Linked DNA regions of Homo sapiens: regions 1 and 2 are each linked to region 3. Evidence: fine-mapped expression QTL. A gene starts in region 3. Each other region holds a variant in brackets. All regions are shown on one strand. Distances are between the middles of the regions. Region 1 overlaps ADGRL1 (adhesion G protein-coupled receptor L1). Region 2 overlaps ADGRL1-AS1 (ADGRL1 antisense RNA 1). Region 3 holds the start of PRKACA (protein kinase cAMP-activated catalytic subunit alpha).

What was found. PIP is the estimated chance that this variant, and not a neighbour inherited with it, causes the effect. A credible set is the group of variants that fine-mapping cannot tell apart.
Region 1: its variant is the best candidate, but not a certain one, in a credible set for the expression of PRKACA in whole blood (TOPMed, PIP 0.54).
Region 2: its variant is the best candidate, but not a certain one, in a credible set for the expression of PRKACA in whole blood (TOPMed, PIP 0.55).

The regions. Positions count from the first base shown.
Region 1 is chr19:14,175,581-14,178,080 of GRCh38, forward strand. It overlaps ADGRL1 (adhesion G protein-coupled receptor L1), which reads right to left. Exons shown (of 23, transcript NM_014921.5): 3 at 1,951-2,164. Among named protein-coding and RNA genes, the nearest start is that of ADGRL1, 29 kb to the right of the region's middle. The variant G/A (reference allele first, on the strand shown) is at 1,023.
Region 2 is chr19:14,141,914-14,144,745 of GRCh38, forward strand. The region is part of intron 1 of ADGRL1-AS1 (ADGRL1 antisense RNA 1); the gene reads left to right. Among named protein-coding and RNA genes, the nearest start is that of ADGRL1-AS1, 6.2 kb to the left of the region's middle. RefSeq lists a silencer at 1,064-1,358. The variant A/G (reference allele first, on the strand shown) is at 1,604.
Region 3 is chr19:14,116,741-14,119,240 of GRCh38, forward strand. It overlaps PRKACA (protein kinase cAMP-activated catalytic subunit alpha), which reads right to left and starts at 1,022. Exons shown (of 10, transcript NM_002730.4): 1 at 762-1,022. The coding sequence starts at 807. It overlaps LOC124904642 (a long non-coding RNA gene), which reads left to right and starts at 1,474. Exons shown (of 2, transcript XR_007067144.1): 1 at 1,474-2,451. RefSeq lists silencers at 603-672, 1,083-1,642.

The DNA of each region.
Region 1 (2,500 bases), 59 kb after region 3:
TACACACTCCAATACACACTCATACAGACACACTCAGACACACTCAAAGACATGTTTAGTCACACACATCTGCACACACCTACACCTGTTCACATACACTTAGACACACAGACACACTTAGTCACAATCACACACATTTAGTCACACACTCAAAAATGCACACATACTCACACTCAAATACACACACAGGCCAGGCGCAGTGGCTCACGCCTGTAATCCCAGCACTTAAGGGGGCCAAGGCAGGCAGGTGAATCACCTGAGGTCAGGAGTTCAAGACCAACCTGGCCAACATGGTAAAACCCTGTCTGTACAAAAATACAAAAATAAGCTGGGCATGATGGTGCGTACCTGTAATCCCAGCTACTCGGGAGGCTGAGGCGGGAGAATTGCTTGAACCCTGGAGGTGGAGGTTGCAATGAGCTGAGATCACACCACTGCACTGCAGCCTGGGCGACAGAGCAAGATTCTGTCTCAAAAATAAACAAAACAGGCCGGGCGCAGTGGCTTACACCTGTAGTCCCAGCACTTTGGGAGGCCAAGTGGGCGGATCATGAGGTCAAGAGATCGAGACCATCCTGGCCAAGATGGTGACACCCCGTCTCTATTAAAAATACAAAAAAATTAGCTTGGCGTGGTGGTGCGCGCCTGTAGTCCTAGCTACTCGGGAGGCTGAGGCAGGAGAATCGCTTGAACCCAGGAAGCGGAGGTGGCAGTGAGCCAAGATCGCACCACTGCACTCCAGCCTGGGTGACAGACTGAGACTCTGTCTCAAAAATTAAATAACTAAATAAAATAAAACAAATACACCGTCATACTCATAGATGCATGCAATCACACAGACACACTCCAAGTTACAGTCTTGCATGCTCAAGCATTCACCCCACACACAATCACTCACACAGGCCTGTGCTTCTATCATCTGTGCTCAGGTGTCTCCTCCTTGGAGTAGCCTGATGAGCTCTCAAATCTGGGATGGGTGGGTGCGGTGGCTCATGCCTGTCATCCCAGCGCTTTGAGAGGCC[G/A]AGGCAGGAGGATTGCTTGAGGCCAGGAGTTTAAGACCAGCCTGGGCAACATAGCAAGACCCTGCCTCTACAAAAAATAAAATAAAATTAGCCAGGCATGGTGGCAGGCGCCTGTAGTCCCAGCTACTCAGGAGGCTGAGGCAGGGGGATTGCTTGAACCTGAGAGGTCACAGCTGCAGTGAGCTGTGATTGTGCCACTGTGCTCCAGCCTAGGCAACAGTGAGACCCTATCTTCAAAAAAAAAAAAAGAGTCTGGGATGAAGGGAAAAGTCCTCCCATGACACCTTCGCTCTGTCCTGCTGTTCTTTATATTTTACAAGCTCCAAACTGCCCTGGCTAAGGCTGGGTGTGATGGCTCATCTCATGCCTGTAATGCCAGCACTTTGGGAGGTCGAGGTGGGCAGATCACCTGAGGTCAGGAGTTCGAGACCTGCCTGGCCAATTACAAAACCCTGTCTCTACTAAAAATACAAAAAAATTAGTCAGGCGTGGTGGCGTGCGCCTATAATCCCCAGCTACTTGGGAGGCTGAGGCAGAAGAATCGCCTAAACCCAGGAGGTGGAGGTTGCAGTGAGCTGAGATGCCACCACGCTCCAGCCTGGTAACAGAGTAAGACTCCATCTCAAAAACAAACAAACAAACTGCCCTGGCTAATCTTGGGATGGAAGTTATGGAAGCAAGAGGCTGGTGGGGGGAGGGACTTCCCAGTGTATGTATGGGTATAGGCCTCTGTCGGGGGCACAGGCTGGCTGTGGGGAGATGTACTGGGTCTTATTCTCGTCTGCATGGGGCCCAGCACCTATTAAGTGCTCAGTAAACATGTGTTGAATGCATAAAAAAAAGATGTAAGGTGAACGGGTGTGCTGGCAGGTGTGCAGTGCTTTTAGGCGGGCACTTCATCCAGGAACTGCCACGAGAGCCCACTCACCTCTGTGACATGATCTTGAAGGCGTCCGGCAGGTAGCACTGCACATTCTCCATCTGGAAAGGGTCAGCATCGCAAATCTTGTCGTCCGTGCGCCCGTAGTTGGCATTCTCCACCATGATGACGTCGCTGCCGGGGCACCGCAGCTCGATGGGGTAGCCTTCACACGCCAGCTCCCGGCGCATCAGCCCGAACGGGAGCCCGGCCCGGCTCAGGCCTGCAGGGAGGGTTGGGGATGGTGTCACTCCTGGGCCTGGGCCAGGAAGGGAAGACCCTACCCACTGCCAAGAAAACACCACCTCTGGCTCGGCTGTGTCCTGGAAGCCAGCTGAGGCAGCCTCAGTTGATTCAGCTGTAGAATGGGCCTCTCAGTGTGCCCACTTGTGTAGTGAGGACATTAACCTGGCCCAGAGAGTGCCTGGACTCTCAGCTCCTAGGAAGTGACGTCTGAGCCTTTGGAATGCTCTGCTTGATAAGAGTGACTGTTTTCCTGGGGTCCTCGGGCTACACCAGATATGCTGTTATGGATTGAACTGTGTTCCCCTGAAAATTC
Region 2 (2,832 bases), 25 kb after region 3:
CACACATGCTCGAGAAAGTATAAGAAGTGCTATAGCAAAATACTGTTACCCAGCTTAACAGCTAAAACATTAGAGATGCAACTGAAGGGCCCTATACCCCTACATCAAACCCATTCCTCTTCCTTTTTCCTCACATGTAACCACAACCCTGAATTTGGTGTTTACAGTCTTCTGTGCATATCGGCGTGTATCTTTAAACAATATATAGTATTGTTTGTCATGTTCTATACTTTTATATAAATGGTGTCTGCGCAATTTAGAGTTAACCTAGCAGGCCTGAGACTGCTATCCTTAGAAAGACCTGTTTGCAAGATTGGCCCTTGGCTGATATCTAGGAACTTGGATTTCAGGAGGGTTCCTGCCGTTCCCCAAATGATGAGTGCCTAAACTGTTTCCACCAACAATGTGGTTCATGTTGAACACCTGCTCTCCTTCTGGAGTCTGGCATTTTGGTACACGACCACCCCCAAGTACAACTCTGGTCACTGAGTAATGAGCTTCCCTGGTAGACCGCCTATCCGTCGTGCTGTCATACTTGGCGGTAGGAATTGATGGAGTCCTGTGTGACTCCACTAGGAGAGGACTCTTAGAAGCTTGTCCTGGTTTCCTCTGGACTTCAGCTCCTGCATCTTTTCCCTTTGCTGATTGTGCCTTGTGTCTCTTCACTATCATAAATCACAGCCATGCCTACGCTTCCAAGCAAAATCCTGTGACTCCTCTTAGTGAGTCATTGAACCTCAGGGTGGTCTTGGGGACCTCTGATAGCAGGATCATACTGGGTGTATCCTGACAGAGCTGGCACTAAGGTGGCACTGGGTCCTGCCTTCTGAAACTTGCTTTTTTTAATCCAGTGTAATGCTTTTGAGATTTATCTATGTGGAAACGTGTATAGCTCTAATTCACTTATTTTCACTGCTATACAGCTGTGCTGATAAGGTAACCACTAGCCACATGTGGCTATTTAGATTAAAATTAGACGAAACAAATAATCTACTTCCCCAGACACACTAGTCACATTTCACATGTTCAGCAGGAGCCTGTGGCTAGTGGCCACCATGGTGTATAGAGAACATAGAGAGGAAACATTTCCATGAGAACAGAGAGTTTTGTTGGACAGTGTTTATCAATTCACTTGGTTGAAATTTAGGGTGTTTTCAGTTTTCTACCATTACAAACAGTGCTGCAGTATGCGTTGGTATCTATGTCTCCTTGAACACATGTAGGAGTTACTCTGGGAGATAAACCTAGGAGTTGAAGTGCTGGACGGGGGGTTGCGGAAGTATTCATCTTTTCAAGATACTGCTAATCTGCTCTTCGGAATCATGGTACTGGTTCTCACTCCCCTCGTTAGTGTTCCTGTTGCTCAGTGTCCTTATCTTTTATTTTTATTTTTATTTTTGAGACAGAGTTTCGCTCTTGTTGCCCAAGCTAGAGTTCAATGGCACGATCTCGGCCTCCCGGGTTCAAGCGCCGCCTCCCGGGTTCAAGCGATTCTCTTGTCTCAGCCTTCTGAGTAGCTGGGATTACAGGTGTGCACCACCACGCCTGGCTAATTTTTGTATTTTTAGTATAGATGGGGTTTCACCATGTTAGCCAGGCTGGT[A/G]TCGAACTCCTGACCTTAGGTGATCTGCCCGCCTCAGCTTCCCAAAGTGCTGGGATTACATGTATGAGCCACCGCACCCAGACATCTTTTAATTTTTATAATGTTTTGATGTTCAGCATTTTTAAAAATTATTATTATTATTATTATTATTTGAGACAAAGTCTTGCTTTGTCGCCCAGGGTGAAGTGCAATGGTGTGAACTTGGCTCACTGCAACCTCCGCCTCCCGGGTTCAAGCAATTCTCCTGCCTCAGCCTCCCGAATAGCTTTTTGGACCAGTCTCTCATGCCTGTAGTCCCAGCACTTTGGGAGGCCGAGGCGGGCGGGTCACCTGAGGTCAGGAGTTTGACACCAACCTGGCCAACATGGCTAAACCCTATCTCTTCTAAAAATACAAAAAGTTGCCGGGGTTGGCGGCGGGTGCCTGTAATTCCAGCTATTCAGGAGGCTGAGGCAGGAGAATCTCTTGAACCCGGGAGGCTGAGGTTGCAGTGAGCTGAGATTGCACCACTGCACTCCAGTCTGGGCAACAGAGTGAGACTCTGTCTCAAAAATAAACAAACAAAACATATATTCTGAGAATTAAATGAGACAAAATGTAGGAAAGAGCTTTGAAATGATACATTTCAGCATAAATGTACCGTCCCTAGGCACATGCAGATGAATGGGTGCCACTAACAACTACCTGAGGGTCAGAGGTTGTCAGGCACAGCAGGTTTATTTTTATTTTTGAGACAGAGTCTCACTCTGTCGCCAGGCTGGAGTGCAGTGGCGTGACCTCGGCTCACTGCAACCTCTGCCTCCCAGTCCCGAGTACCTGGGACTACAGGCGCCCACCACCACAACTGGCTAATTTTTTTTTCTTTTTTTTTTTTTAGTAGAGACGGGGTTTTGCCATGTTGGCCAGGCTGGTTTTGAATTCCTGACCTCAGGTGATCCGCCCGCCTTGGCCTCCAAAGTGTTGGGATTACAGGCGTGAGCCACCGCGTCCAGTCAGGCACAGTGGGTTTAGGTTGTGTGTAGTGAAGGGGAGAGTAAAAGACACAGAAGGACTGGTCATATTTGGCTCTCATTGTATGCGGGATTCGATTTCAAATCAGAGCATGAGGTCAAATCACATATAGTTAAAATTATCTACTCTTTTTTTTTTTTTTTTTTTTTTGAGACGTGGTGTTGCTCTGTCACCCAGGCTGGAGTGGAGTGTGATCTTGGTTCACTGCAACCTCTGCC
Region 3 (2,500 bases):
TGAAGCAATTCTCTACGTTCATAAACAGTCTGCTACCCCAGCCAGGGACAGACGCTTGCTTGGAGGACGGAGCACAAGCAGAGCAGCAGAATGACAGAGTGACAGGATGAGAGAGGCAGAGGGACCCAGAAAGATCCTGTCCCCCATGCCAAGTGACACAGAAGAAAAAAATAATGCTGGAGGTGGCTCTGGGAAATGTTCAGGGGGCAGGATGGGTTTGGAAGGGGGGGCTGTGCTAAGGTGAAGAGGGAAAGGGCAGGAGAAAGATGGCGGGGGCTGGAGGGGGGAGGGGTGTGGTCAGCAAGTGGCCAAGGTCCCTGCGCGGTGGAGGCAGACAGACCTCATCGCATTCCCAAACTGGTAGAAACCTGGGTCGGGGTCAGGCAGAGGATCCCATAGGTGAGAGAGGTGAGTGAGGAAGTGGGGGGATTAGAATCTGGGAAGAGGGGCCAGGAAAGGAGGGGGTAGGCTGGTGACAGGGGCCCATGTGGGGCCCCAGCGGTCATACGTGCCATGGTTGGCAGTGACAGCTGGGGGGGAGCACGGTCTTTGCAGCATGGGGCGGCCCTAGGGGAAGGGGACCCCTACAGGGGGTACTCTGCGGGCCCGCGGGCCCCAGCCTTGGACAGGCCGGGGCAAGGGGCGCTGGGGGGTAGGCAGAGAGGATGAGGGGCCCCGTAGGGGGAGGGGCCAGGCGATGATGGACAAGGCCAGGGCTGGCAGCGCAGGGCCAAGATCGGGGTCACAGCCCGGGCACTCACCGCTCTCCTGCTCGCTGCCCTTCTTGGCGGCGGCGGCGTTGCCCATCGCGGCGGCGGCGGCCGGGGCCGGTCCCGGAGCTGCGGCGCGGCGGGTGCTGGCTGCGGCCGGCGGCCCCGGAGCGCGCTGGGCGGCGGCGGCGGCGGCCCTCGGGCTGGCTGCGCTAGCTGCGGCGCCGCGACCCCCGCCCAGCCCCTGCTTCCCGCGTCTCTCCGCGCCCGCCCGCCCGGGAACCTCAGCCCAAGATCTCTGCCGCTGTCTGTGACGCCCCCGCAGCCCGCCGCTCATTGGCCTAGGCCGCCCTGACTGACGGCTCAGCGCCGCCTCCCATTGGCCCTCCCGCGACCTTCCCGCGCCACTATAGGCTCTCAGCCTCGGGACACGCACCGCGGACTCTCGGCCATTCACTCGCTCGCGAGGCCGCAGCTGGGCGGGCAGACGCGTCCGATTGGCCGAGACGCTGGACTGGGCCCGGGGTCCGCCCTGCGAGGCCGCCGATTGGCGGAGGTGCCGGGTCCGCCAAGCCCCCCAGCAGAACGCTCAGTGTCAATCCGGGGGTGAGAGGGCGGGGCGGAGACGCAGTCTGCGGGCCCGGGCCGGCGGGGCGGGGCGGCGGAGGCTGGCTGGCGGCCGCGCAGCGCTCCGAGGCTCAGGAGGCGGCCCCGGCGGGCGCCCGGCCGGCCCCGCGCGCGCCGCAGTCCCCCGCCCCCGCTCAGTGCGGCAGCGGCTGTCGGCCAGCCGGAGTTGGCGCCGCGGCCTGCCCGGCGCAGCCGCTGTCCACCTGCCAGCGGGGGAGGGGCGCGGCCGGCGCGCGGGTCAGAGGTCGCCCGGCCGCCGCCGGCGTCATTCATAAGGCCTGGCGCTGGGCGGCCGAGGCCAGGCCTGCTTGGGGGCCAGGCCGCGGGGCCTCCTGGGTTTTCCCAGCCGCACTCAGGAGGATGCCGGGCCCGGCGCAAGGGGTGGCTGGGAAGGGGCGCTCAGTGTCCACCCCTTTGCTGGGCCCTAGCCCTGGGCTCCTGCCAGTAGTAAGAGCTGGCACCCACTTAACGCTCCTTCGCACCACACTCCCATCGCGTAGGTGCTACCATCATCACTCCCATTGCACAGATGAGGAATCTGGGGTACAGCCAGGCAGATTCCCTGCTCCTGTTCCCCGTCTGTATTTCCTGTCTGGGCAATGCGAAGGGAACCTGCCCCTTCCTTCAGGATCCTCTTTCAGTACACACTTAGCAGAGGACAGTCGGGGTTTCCCAACTGCGACACTACTGACGGTGAGGCTGGATCATTTTCTGCTGGGGGGTGTCTTGTGCACCACTGGGTGTTGAGCAACATCCCCCGCCTCTACCCACTGGATGCCAGTAGCCCCTCCTCTATCTTCCTGCTGGCTGTGGCAACCGCTGTCTCCTGACATTGGTGAATGTGCTCTTGCGGGGCCGAACTGCTCCTGATTGAGAAGCACTTAAGAGAGGGTCAGGGGAGGGGAGAAGCCAGGTCACCCCGACTCGGAAGGGCTAGCTGGGCTTAACTACAAGCCGATCTGCTGCTTCGACTTGAATAGCCTCCACCTTCTCCAGCTGCTGTCTGCCCCCATGTTCCCAGATCAACCACAGTTCCAGGGAGGGAGAGTCAGAGCCTTTCTGTGAACTATGGGGAAATGGCTGACCACTCCGCCTCTGGATGGATAGATACATGGTAAGGTTTAGTAAAATTTAATAAAAGCATTGCTGTTTGTGTGTTGGGA